2 separate regions of the Homo sapiens genome follow, and region 1 is linked to region 2. The links come from fine-mapping of genetic effects on gene expression. A gene starts in region 2. The other region holds a variant in brackets. All regions are shown on one strand. Distances are from middle to middle.

Evidence for each region. PIP is the estimated chance that this variant, and not a neighbour inherited with it, causes the effect.
Region 1: its variant is the best candidate, but not a certain one, in a credible set for the expression of TNRC6C in tibial nerve (GTEx, PIP 0.89).

Annotation. Positions count from the first base shown.
Region 1 is chr17:77,783,468-77,788,837 of GRCh38, forward strand. No RefSeq gene overlaps it. Among named protein-coding and RNA genes, the nearest start is that of LINC01987, 58 kb to the left of the region's middle. The variant A/G (reference allele first, on the strand shown) is at 2,791.
Region 2 is chr17:77,956,672-77,962,041 of GRCh38, forward strand. TNRC6C (trinucleotide repeat containing adaptor 6C) reads left to right here and starts at 2,032. Exons shown (of 23, transcript NM_001142640.2): 1 at 2,032-2,597. RefSeq lists silencers at 1,647-1,696, 1,717-2,176 and enhancers at 1,849-2,408, 2,409-2,967.

The sequences.
Region 1 (5,370 bases), 170 kb before region 2:
GACATGTTGAAACCCCATCTTTAAAAAAATACAAAAATAAGCCAGGCATGATAATGGGTGCCTGTAATCCCAACTACTCAGGTGGCTGAGGCAGGAGAATCGCTTGAACCAGGGAGGCGGAGGTTACGGTGAGCCAAGATTGCACCATTGCACTCCAGCCTGGGCAACAGAAGGAGACTCTGTCTCAAACAAAAAAACAAAAAAACAAAAAAATTAAAAAAAAAGAAAAACTTCCGGACAGCAGTCGTTCTTGCTAAGAATTTCTAGAGTAGGAAGCAAGGGTCTTGCTCCCTGCCCACTGTGCAAATGAAAGAATCAAGTACAAGGAGTGAGAAAGACAGCCTAATGTTTCCTGGACATGGTGGCTGGGGACTGGCTGGAAGTTGGGGAGGGGACCCCCCCCAGCCTAGGTAGGCCCAGGTTCCTGCAGCCACAGCCTTGATGGTGATGGTCCAGGGAGAATGGCTGAGGGTGCCCACCTGGCAGGACCACAACTGTGATGAGTGAAATCAGCACGAGAAGGACTCTGGCACCCAGTTTGGGGGTGGGCAGGCAGGATGAGGCAGTGATGGACACGCGCAGCCCCCACCACACCTGCCTTCATCAGGGGCCTCCGGGTGCCCGGACGGATGCTGGTGACCATGGCAAGGGAGGGCTCAACGGTGCTGCCACAGCGGTGGTGCCTCTCGAGAGGCAGCTGGTTAGAAGTGAGAACGCAGTGTCTTCCGCCTCTCCACACCTTCTCAAGGAGGTGATTTCCCAGCCACCCGCGAGCAGCCGAGCATCCTCATTCAGCTCCTCAGGTGTCAGGGCACTGCTCTTGTTTACACTGTCATCGCCCTTGCACTGAACAGCAGAGGCGTGGACTCCTTTTGGCTGATCTTTGCTCTGAGCACCCAGCGCTATGCCAAGGATGGGGAGCCCCATCCAGAGCCCAGGCACCATCTCCAAGCAGATGGAGGAGCTAGGAACAGCTAGGAGGGTCTGTTACCAAAACAAAACTGGCTCCACTCACCCAGGTTGGTAAAGCCAAATACCCACACTGAGGTTTGCAGCAGGAGAAAGGAGGGCGTTTATTTGCCAGGTGCCAAGCAAGGAGAATCAGGCAGCTCACACTTAAGACCCAACATCCTCAATGGCTCACGAGCAACGGTTTTGTTTTTTCTTGTTGGTGGTTTCTTTTCTTGTTGTGTCTCACTCTGTCACCCAGGCTGGAGTTCAGTGGTGAGATCACGGTGCACTGCAACTTCTGCCTCTTGGGTTAAAGCAATTCTCCTGCCTCAGCCTCCTAAGTAGCTCAGACTACAGGCATGCACCACCATGCCTAGCTAATTTTTGTATTTTTTATAGAGTTGGGGTTTGGCCTTGTTGGCCAGGCTGATCTCAAACTCCTGACCTCAGTTGATCCGCCCACCTGGGCTTCCCAGAGTGCTGGGATTACAGGCATGAGCCACCACACCCGGCCACAAGCAAGGGTTTTCAAAGGCGGGAGTATATTTCAGGAAAGCAGAAGTTTCAGGCAAAATCGTTAATCAGTACATGAACATTATACATTGGTTTGGCCTCAAAAGGTGGGATATCTTGAAGTGAGGGGGCTTACAGGACCAGACGGGCAGAGAAAAGTCTCATCCGTCCCCCAACCCCCATCCTCAGAACTGGCCTGGCTTGCAAGGAGGGGATTTTGTCTCCATTTCACAGATATTAAGGAAATTGGGTGCAGAAACTTTCAAGAGCCTGCCCAGGATTCACAGAGTGAGAAGCCAGGGCAAAGCCAGAATTTAGACCTAGTGCTGTGTGGACTCACCCTTCCCACAGGAACATCCTGCTTCAGAACTGAACACCTGCAACTCAGCGTGGCTCACTCGATCCCAGCTCTAGGGGGTGACCCGGCCACCCACACCACTCTCTCCCCACCCCACACCATGGGTTCTGGGCTGCCTCACCCTCCCTCATTGCCTCCTGCGTGCACAGAACATCCTTTCCATGGGGGACATGCATCAGGAGTAGAGAAGGCTGGGCAGGGACATGGTGTGGGATCGCATGCGGCTGATATTCCTGTTAAATAAATACATTTTGCTAATTGGATTACTCAGACAGTATAATATACTACTGGATTTCCAACATGATGCTAATAAATTGTGTGAAGAACTTAATCATGTTAGCGTCCTGAAAGCTTATAAGAGATGAAATGAGAAAATCAGGCAACGTTGACACCCAGGGCCTCCTAAGGCTCTCAGGCTCCTGGAGCTTCCGTGAGCTCCCTTCGCCGGGCTCTCTGCAACAGAAGCTGCCGCTGGGCATGTGGGGTGCGTGTGGGGGTGTCAAGGGGAGGGAAGAAGGAGGTATTCAGCCAGAGAATGAGAGTCACTGTGCCAGGGACTCGAGGACCTGTCCCTGGGCCAGGGGAGAGAAGCTGGCCGAGCAAGGTTCCCAGCAGGTGAAGCCACCCTGGCCCTCACACTCCTCTCATCAGCTGAAGGCCCAGCGGGTGCAGGTGGGCAGCACAGGGCCAGGCGGCCTGTGGTTCTGTGAACCCAAAATATCTGAGACAGTCTCAGTTAATTTAGGAAGTTTATTTTGCCAAGGTTGAGGACGTGCGCCCATGACACAGCCTCAGGAGGTCCTGATGACATGTGCCCAAGGTGGTCAGGGCACAGCTCGGTTTTATACACTTTAGGGAGACAAGAGACATCAATCAACATATGTAAGATGAACATTGGTTCTGTCCCGGAAAGGCAGGACAACTGGAAGCAGGGAGAGGGCTTCCGCTCATAGGTAGAGAGGAGACAA[A/G]TGGTAGCATTCTTTTGAGTTTCTGATGAGCCTCTCCAAAGGAGGCAATGCATGTATCTCAGAGAGCAAAGGGGGGACTTTGAATAGAACGGGAAGCAGGTTTGCCCTAAGCAGTTCCCAGCCTGACTTTCCCTTTAGTTCAGTGATTTTGAGGCCCCAAGATTTATTTTCCTTTCACAGTTCCCTCAAGGGTCTGTGCAAAAAGCATCAGGACCCTACCCACTCCCCTTGCTGCCAATGTCTTTCCAAAAGTGTTTCCACCCACATCTCCCTTCACACAGGGAACCACTGTGGGCTGAAGGTGGCCAAGAAGTTGTGGGAAGCACCTGCGGTTTTGAGGAGGGAAGGGCAGGGACTGAGCCAGGTGGCCGGAAGACAAGGCCAGGAGAGCCTCCATTAGTCCCTGAGAACTCCAGAGAGAGGTGGCTTCCCTCCTTGCCTTCCAGACTGGAAATCTGGGTGGTTGATGTTTAATTAACATTGGTATTGACTTGAAAAGCGAAGACCAGAATTTAAGAGCTCATTACCCCTCTTGCCTTCATATCTTGGCTCCTGGCTACCCAGGAGGGGATGAGGGATGAATGAGGGTCTGTGCTGCAGAGGCAATGAGACTTGCCGTCTCACCAAGCAAGCAAGTGCATAGCACGGGACAGGCCATTAGAACACCACGCACATGCACGTATGCACACTCACACCCAGGCACACTCACATGCATGCACACTCACACGCACACATGCACACACCTGAACTCAGCCCCCAAACAGGAGCACTCTTCAATGGCCATCATTAAAATAATAACTGGCTTCTGCAGCAGCTTCCCAGGTATTAATGCAAATGTTTTTCTAACTCTCCAGGTTCAAGAGCAACAGCTTACACAAGTCTAATTAGCATAACAAAATCCAGCCAGGAAGAGAAAACAAGCTCCTCTTATTTGATGCTTCCTGGTAATTAGCAAGAACAATTACTGCAGCATCCGGAATTTCCAACCCCCAAAGATGCCAGGGCCACACTTGAGCACATCAGGAATCAATTTAGAGAAGCCAAAATAAGGCCATTATGAGGGATGCTCAACCCGAGCGTGACATGTGTGTTTGCAAGCAAGCAAGCAAGCACTTCCCCGCCCACACCGCCCCTGTGCTGACCGCTGCAGCCTGCCTCCTGCCCTTCCCCGCGTCCACACACACACGCCCGTTCATACGCTCCTCGCCCAGGTCTTCGCGCATCCAGCATCCATTCATTCAGCAAATGTCAGCGACTGGACCTGCTGCTTTGTTCAGAAGGTGCAAAGGTGAGAAAGGCAAGGTCCTTGCACCCAAAGGGTCTGGTTGGGTGTGTTTAACCTGCATTTCATGCTGCCTTCTGTGTGCTGGGCCCGGTGGTGCAGTGCAGAGATCAGAACAAGACAGCACCCATCACCAAGAATGTCACGCCCATGAGGTATTGGATGCCTTCTAGGTGGTGAAGCCCGTGCCTGGCTCAAAGGGCACACAGAAGAGAGAGGGCCTCTCTCGTCCTGGGGTGGGTGGGTCATCAGAGACTTCATGAACCAGGTGACTGCAGAGCTGGGTTTGAGGATGAAAAGAAGTTGGTCATAGTGGGTGGACATAGGTCAGAAGAACAGAAAGAGTGCTTAGGTAGGCACTGTGGGATAAAGCCACAAAGGCAAGAAAAGGAGCGGGTGCTCAGGGACCTCGCAGCAGAGTGCAGAGGAGTGAAGGAAGGAGCCACAGGAGATGGGCCTGAGGAAGCTGGTGGCTGAAGGTCGTAGCAGGTTTCAGGGGCTGGGCCATGGATCGAGCAAGAGGGAATCAGGGTTCTGGTGCGGTGGCTCATGCCTGTAATCCCAGCACTTTGGGAGGCCGAGGCAGGAGGATCACTTGAAGTCAGGAGTTCAAGACCAGCCTGGCAAACATGGTGAAACCCCTTCTCTACTAAAAATACAAAAATTAGCTGGGTGTGGTGGCACGCACCTGTAGTCCCAGCTACTCTGGAGGCTGAGGCAGGAGAATCCTTGAACCTGGGAAACGGAGGTTGCAGTGAGCTGAGATCGCGCCATTGCACTCCAGCCTCAGAGTGAGAGTCTGTCTCAAAAAAAAAAAAAAGAGGGAGTCGGGAAAGGAGAGAAGACTGTATGGAAGAGGCACGGTCAGTGTCGGTGGCTGGAGAGGATGCCACTGTCCCATCCAGGTGGGGTGGACAGTCTCCTACCCCCAGGCCAAGAGGGTAGGCATGGATCCAAACGGGAAATGACAGATGCTGGACTCCCCGGGAGAGAAATCCTGACTGCCTGCATGTCAGGCAGAAGGGAGAGGGAGGAGATGTCCAGAATGACCACGTGGATGTGGGGAGGAGGCTGGGGGAGCTCTGCGTCGATGGGATGGGACCGTCGAGGCCAGCTGGGAAGAGGCCCCACTCACATGACTCATTCATGTGGGTCACAGCCTTCTGTGTCCAACCTGTGTCTTCTGTTCAGATCTGCACCCTTGTTGATACCCAACTACCCAGGTGGAAACAGAGCCCTGTCGTGACCATTCACAGACGACACAAGGCGTGGAGCCCCAAATAAGAGACTATGTCATG
Region 2 (5,370 bases):
GACCAACCCGAAACATGAACGTACCCATTTTTACAGTTGTGCCTGGGGTTCCTACTCATACTTTATCAGTTCAAACAACCACTAATAAGTGACACTGCTCTGCAGTCTTAACATTCATGGCCACCATATGCCTCAATGTTTCTGGGTCAACTTTAGTTTCAAACATTATCTCTACTGTCACAGGTCCACATGCCAAACTATGAGTCCAGTTTGGGGTTCAGAACATATAGTCTCTATAGTTCTGCCTTTTCTCGGTGCTCAGAGTCTAATATCATTGGAGAAGAGGACGATTTTTGCCTGATTAAACTGAGGGAGGGGGATAAGAAAGGGAACCAAAGACAATGCTAAATAATGTATTTTGGTTCAATTTTCCAAAAAGTGAAGCTCTGCTTATCACAATGATTGGTCCACTCTGGTCCACCCAGATACCTGGATTCCTCATTTATGTAGCAGCAGTCTACTTCGTGGGCGCTGCCTATTTTGAAGATGTTATTTTGCACTCCCTTCTGGAGCATGTGATAATACCTCTACCTTTGAGAAATACAAAAGATGTAGGTTCTCTGCAGTCGAGAATTAAATGAACGTAAATAAAATGAATAGACAAGGCAGAAGCCTCCATGTCAGCTCCCTCTGCCTTCAGATCCTTCTAAGGGATGTGGGTTCTCGGGAGGGGAAATACACAACACGATACAACAGACATTTGACGACCCTTTAGAGGCTGGTTGTGAATCTGACTACCGGAGGGCTTAAAATATGGCAGTAAGAAGAAAGGAGCTCATGGGACCCTGAAGGGAAACGAGAGCGGGGAATTTGTCTCTTTCATCCACAGTCGTTTCAAAGCATGACACTTGCGGTAACAAAATTGCATTGCGAAAGTACTAGTGTGTTATTATCTCCTCTTCAAGACAGGGACACGTAGACAGGGAATGGCCTCTTCCAATACCAACTTCCAAGTAGCACTGCTGATCCTCCACTGAACGATGGGGGAAAAGCTAGCCTGCTTCTGCGACCTTGCATGAAAATGGAGAAAATTCTTGGTTTCAAAATCTTCTCCTGGCTTGAACCGAAAGTTAAAAAGGGACTTTTCGAATTGCACATTGCGCCTGACCTTACCTACCACTAATGAATAATGGATATCGAGGAGCCGTGGAATGGAGGATCACGGCGGCGTACGGAGCACCGGGGAGGAATCGTGGGGTGCGTAGGCGCCGGAGCGCCCGGGTTCGGCCCGGACCGAAGGCTTGCGCGGTGAAGGTGTGGTGTCTGTGCTCCGGGGAAAGGGCTGTCTCCCCGGGGGACTGTTTCGCAGCGAGGCTTGTTTTGCTCGCAGCTGGGCGCTCCCTGGGGAGCGACTGAGCGCAAGGGCGGGCCGGGAGGCGCGAGGCGAGCACGATGCTCCAGGGCCCCAAGGACTCGTGTGCGTGTGCGTGTGCAAAGTGGGGCGGTGCAGGGCGTGTGCACGGCACGGGCGAGACGCGCGCCGGTGCGGGCGCCGGGCGCCGCCGGGCGCAATTACAGCATAAAGCCCGGGCGCCGCGGGGCGCTGGCCCGGAGAACCCACCGGACGCGCAGAACCGGATCGGCACCCCTCCCGCCAGCACCCTAACGCGGAGCCACAGCGCCCAGGGACCGGAGGGCAGGCGGCGGCGGTAAAGGACACCACGCAAGTCTCCACGTAACCCCCCCGAGCAGTGCAAGCTCCCAGGACTGGCGCGCGTCCCGGCCACTCGGAGCGCGCACCGCTCGCACCCCGGCGCGCTCCCCGCGCGGTGCAGGGAACCACAGCGCGGGCGGGTATTAAGGGGAAAGGAGGAGGCGTGGCCTGGCCGAGGAGCCAATGGGCCGGGAGGGGCGCGCGGGGGAGGAGCTCAGGTGCAGAGTGCCGATTGGCCAGTTCGCCCTCCGGTATGCAGATACGGTGGGAGTCACGTGCTAGGGGCCGGGACGACTTCCTGTTGGAGGCCAACGCGGGGCGGGGAAGGGGGCGCGAGCGCCCCGTCTGGCTGAAGCGGGGGGAGGGGGGTTCTTGTCAGTTAGAGCAACAAGATGGCCGCGGTGGCAGCTCCGCACCTCAGCGCGACGGCCCCGGGAGCCGTAGCCGCCGCCGCCGGCCCCGCCGCCGCGCAGTCTTGAGCGCCGCCCGGGCCGCCCCCTGACAGGGCAGTCCCAGCGCCCGCCGCGCTCCCGCCGCCGTCACCGTCGCAGTAGCCGCGGGCCCGCCCGAGCCGGAGGCGGAGGGAGCGGAGCGGCCCCGCGCCCAGCCGTCCGCAGCTGCCACCGCCGCCGCCGCCGCCGCCTAGGACCCGGACCCCGCCGGAGCCGCATCCCGCCGGGCGTGAGGAGGAGGACGCGTCGCGGCGTTGCCGGGGCCGGACCTGGACCTGCCGGGACGCGCCGCCGCCCACTCGCCCGCGCCGCCGCCGCAGCCGCCGCCGCCGCCCGCGCCGGGACCTGAGTCCGTGGCGCCGGCGCTGAGCGGGCCCCCGCCGCCCGCGCACTCCCGAGGCCCTCGGGCGGTTGTTCGTGCCGCCGCCGCCGCCAGGCCCGCGCCACCGGAGCCCCGCGGAGCCGCCGCCGCCGCCGGGGACGGAGCCCAGGTGAGCGCGGCAGTCCGCCCGCTCCTCGCCGCAGCCGCAACTTTGCCGGGAGGTTCGCGGGCCCTTTGTTCGGCCGAGCCGAGCCGGGGCGGGCGCTGGCCCCTAGCGACCCGCGTGCGGCGCCAGGCCCCGGGCCGGCCGGGTTTGAGGGGAGCGGCGGGAAGCGGCCGGGGCCGGGGCGCGTGTGTGCTAGTGTGAGACGGGGCTGTGCAGACGCCCGGTGTGCATCACAATCAAACGGGAGTGGAATGGAGGGCTGAAGATGGATGTGCCCCCTCCCTTTTAAAACTCATGCAGCGGTGAAATTCGGTCCTTTCCGGGCAGCCCCCCGCAGATTTTGCACTGGTGATGGCAGGCGCGAACCCGCCGTGTTTTGGTGCAGGAGCCCGGTGCCGTTGTTTGGGGGAAGAGAAAAACCCGGGGCGTGCTGCGGGTGGGCGGAGAAGGACCCCTGGGCGCTCTGCGGCTCTGAAATCAGGTGGATTTTCTAACGGTGCTGCGGACTGCGGAGTAATGCGTATGAGGAAAACGAGCCGTACAACATCTGTCCTGTTATCAGATAACGTAACCCGAGCGCCTGGTTGCCGCCTCTGCTTTAAGCGGTGCCTCCTTTGCACCTTTACCTTGAGGACGAGATTTAATTAATTGATTCGTAGCTATGAAAATGTGCAGATGTGGATGTGGGGGTTCCCTGCCTGTTAACCTGGGGAAGAAATAACTGGCAAGCATGTTACACGGAGCTTTGGGGATCTTAGCAAAAATGAAGGCTTGCTGCTTGGATGTTGTGCCGGGAGGTAGGGGAGGAGGAGCCGCTAGATCGTGGCTGCACCTATTGCATTCGAAGGCATTTGACGGTATTGGTGATTCTGCACGTAATTAGTGGAGTTGTCTCAAACCTTTGCCTCCGCCAAATGAAACCTCCATTTGAGTGGTCCGCTCGGTTATTTCTAGGCGTGAACTGCGGATTCTAAACTCAAAATGGTGCTCTGTAGATGTCCAACTTCAGCGTCTTTAAGGAGTTGCAAGTTGGAGCCTTCTGACTGGGTTAATCCATTGTGTAGCCGAGGTTCGGTTTTTCTCGAGTGTCTGGTGTTCACGTTGACGTACTTCGGCCAGTACAAGGTAGCCAATTTATGGTGATCGCTGTGAGAGCCTCGTACGTCCCTGAATGTAATTTGAGCCTGCATAAGGCCTACTTTATGCAAGTGATTTCCTGCAGTTGGAATTGAATAACTATGCGAATGAGTTGAGACCCTGGAAACCTGGCTTGAGTGATTTCAGAGGACAGTGGTAGCTGGTTTGAAATGTGTAGGGGGTGTTGGCAATGATATTCATAGATTCCGGATTTCCTTCAGTACTGTATGAAAGAATAAATGATAAAACTTAGCCCCAGGCCAGATGAACTTGGTTAGTAGAGGGCACCTTGAAGAAATTTACATTGTTCCAGAACAGCAGAGGTGGCAATGGTCTTTGAGCATGTTTCACTGTAGCACCCCTAGGATGCTTTGTTGGGGGAAATAATGCAAAACAGGGTTTTTAAAATGACTAGTTCAGTTGTCGGAATTAATTTTGTGTGTATTAATAGAACAAAGTAATGATGTGAACAGTTGTAACTTTACCTATACTGAAAGTTTTTTTTCTACAGAAAGTTTTTAATATTTATTTTCATAAGAATAGACATTCTTGGAAGCTGTTTTTCATACAGATTTCTCATGACCTGACCATAGGCATAGTCAGGCCGTGAGAAATTGATAGCTCAGAAAACGGTAATAGTAAACACACACACACACTCGTTTTTATTATAAGGATCTGATTTTAAAAGCTTGTTTGTAACTCTTCTGTGCTTCTTGTCCAAAACAAAGACCTTGCTGACCTTACCTCGGTTTTACTTTTTTTTTTTTTTTTTGAGACAGTTTCGTTCTTGTTGCCCAGGCTGGAGTGCAATGGCACGATCTCGGGTCACTGCAACCTCCGCCTCCCGGGTTCAAGCGATTCTCTTGCCTCACCCTCCCGAGTAGCAGGGATTACAGGTGCCCGCCGCCACGCCCGGCTAATTTTTGTATTTTTAGTAGAGACGGGGTTTTGCCATGTTGGCCAGGCTGGTCTCGAACTCCTGACTTCAGGTGATCCGCCTGTCTCGGCCTCCCAAAGTGCTGGGATTACAGGCGTGAGCCACCACGCTCGGCCGGTTTTACTTTTAAGGTATGAAATTAAATACGGTTGATACTGAGACTGTCTGTCATAAGGTTTAATCTTAACAATTTCATTTCGGATTCTGCCATTTAAATATTCTGGTAGTAACCTGGAGTATATGTAAGTGTTGGTTTTAGATTTTCGTCCTTCGTGTTTATTGCGGGGGGCGAGGGTGGGTTTCGAGTAGCATATGTCTTAACACTAACATCATTTCGAAACAGGTTTACATTTATATTTAGTTGGCTTAGGAACTTTGGAGTAAATAGTTGCCTTTAGAATGCTGATTGTGAAGGTAGAGTGGAATGAACTGTTTCGTTTGACATTCGGTGATTAAAAAATAACTAAGTCATACAGAGGATATATGAAACTAAATACAGTATTTTTCATCACCGCTACCGCCACCTTTTTGTTAAACAGCTGGCTTTCCTGAGATACATTTGTGCTTTTCCAAATGCTGTCATCTGGCTTACTTCCAAAACCAAGCCAGAGGAGGGTCAGGGCTGGAGTAGGACAACCTTTCTCCTTAATGAAGGGAGTTTCCAGTTTGGAAAGAAATGGAAGACACAGTTCCTGCAGTGCT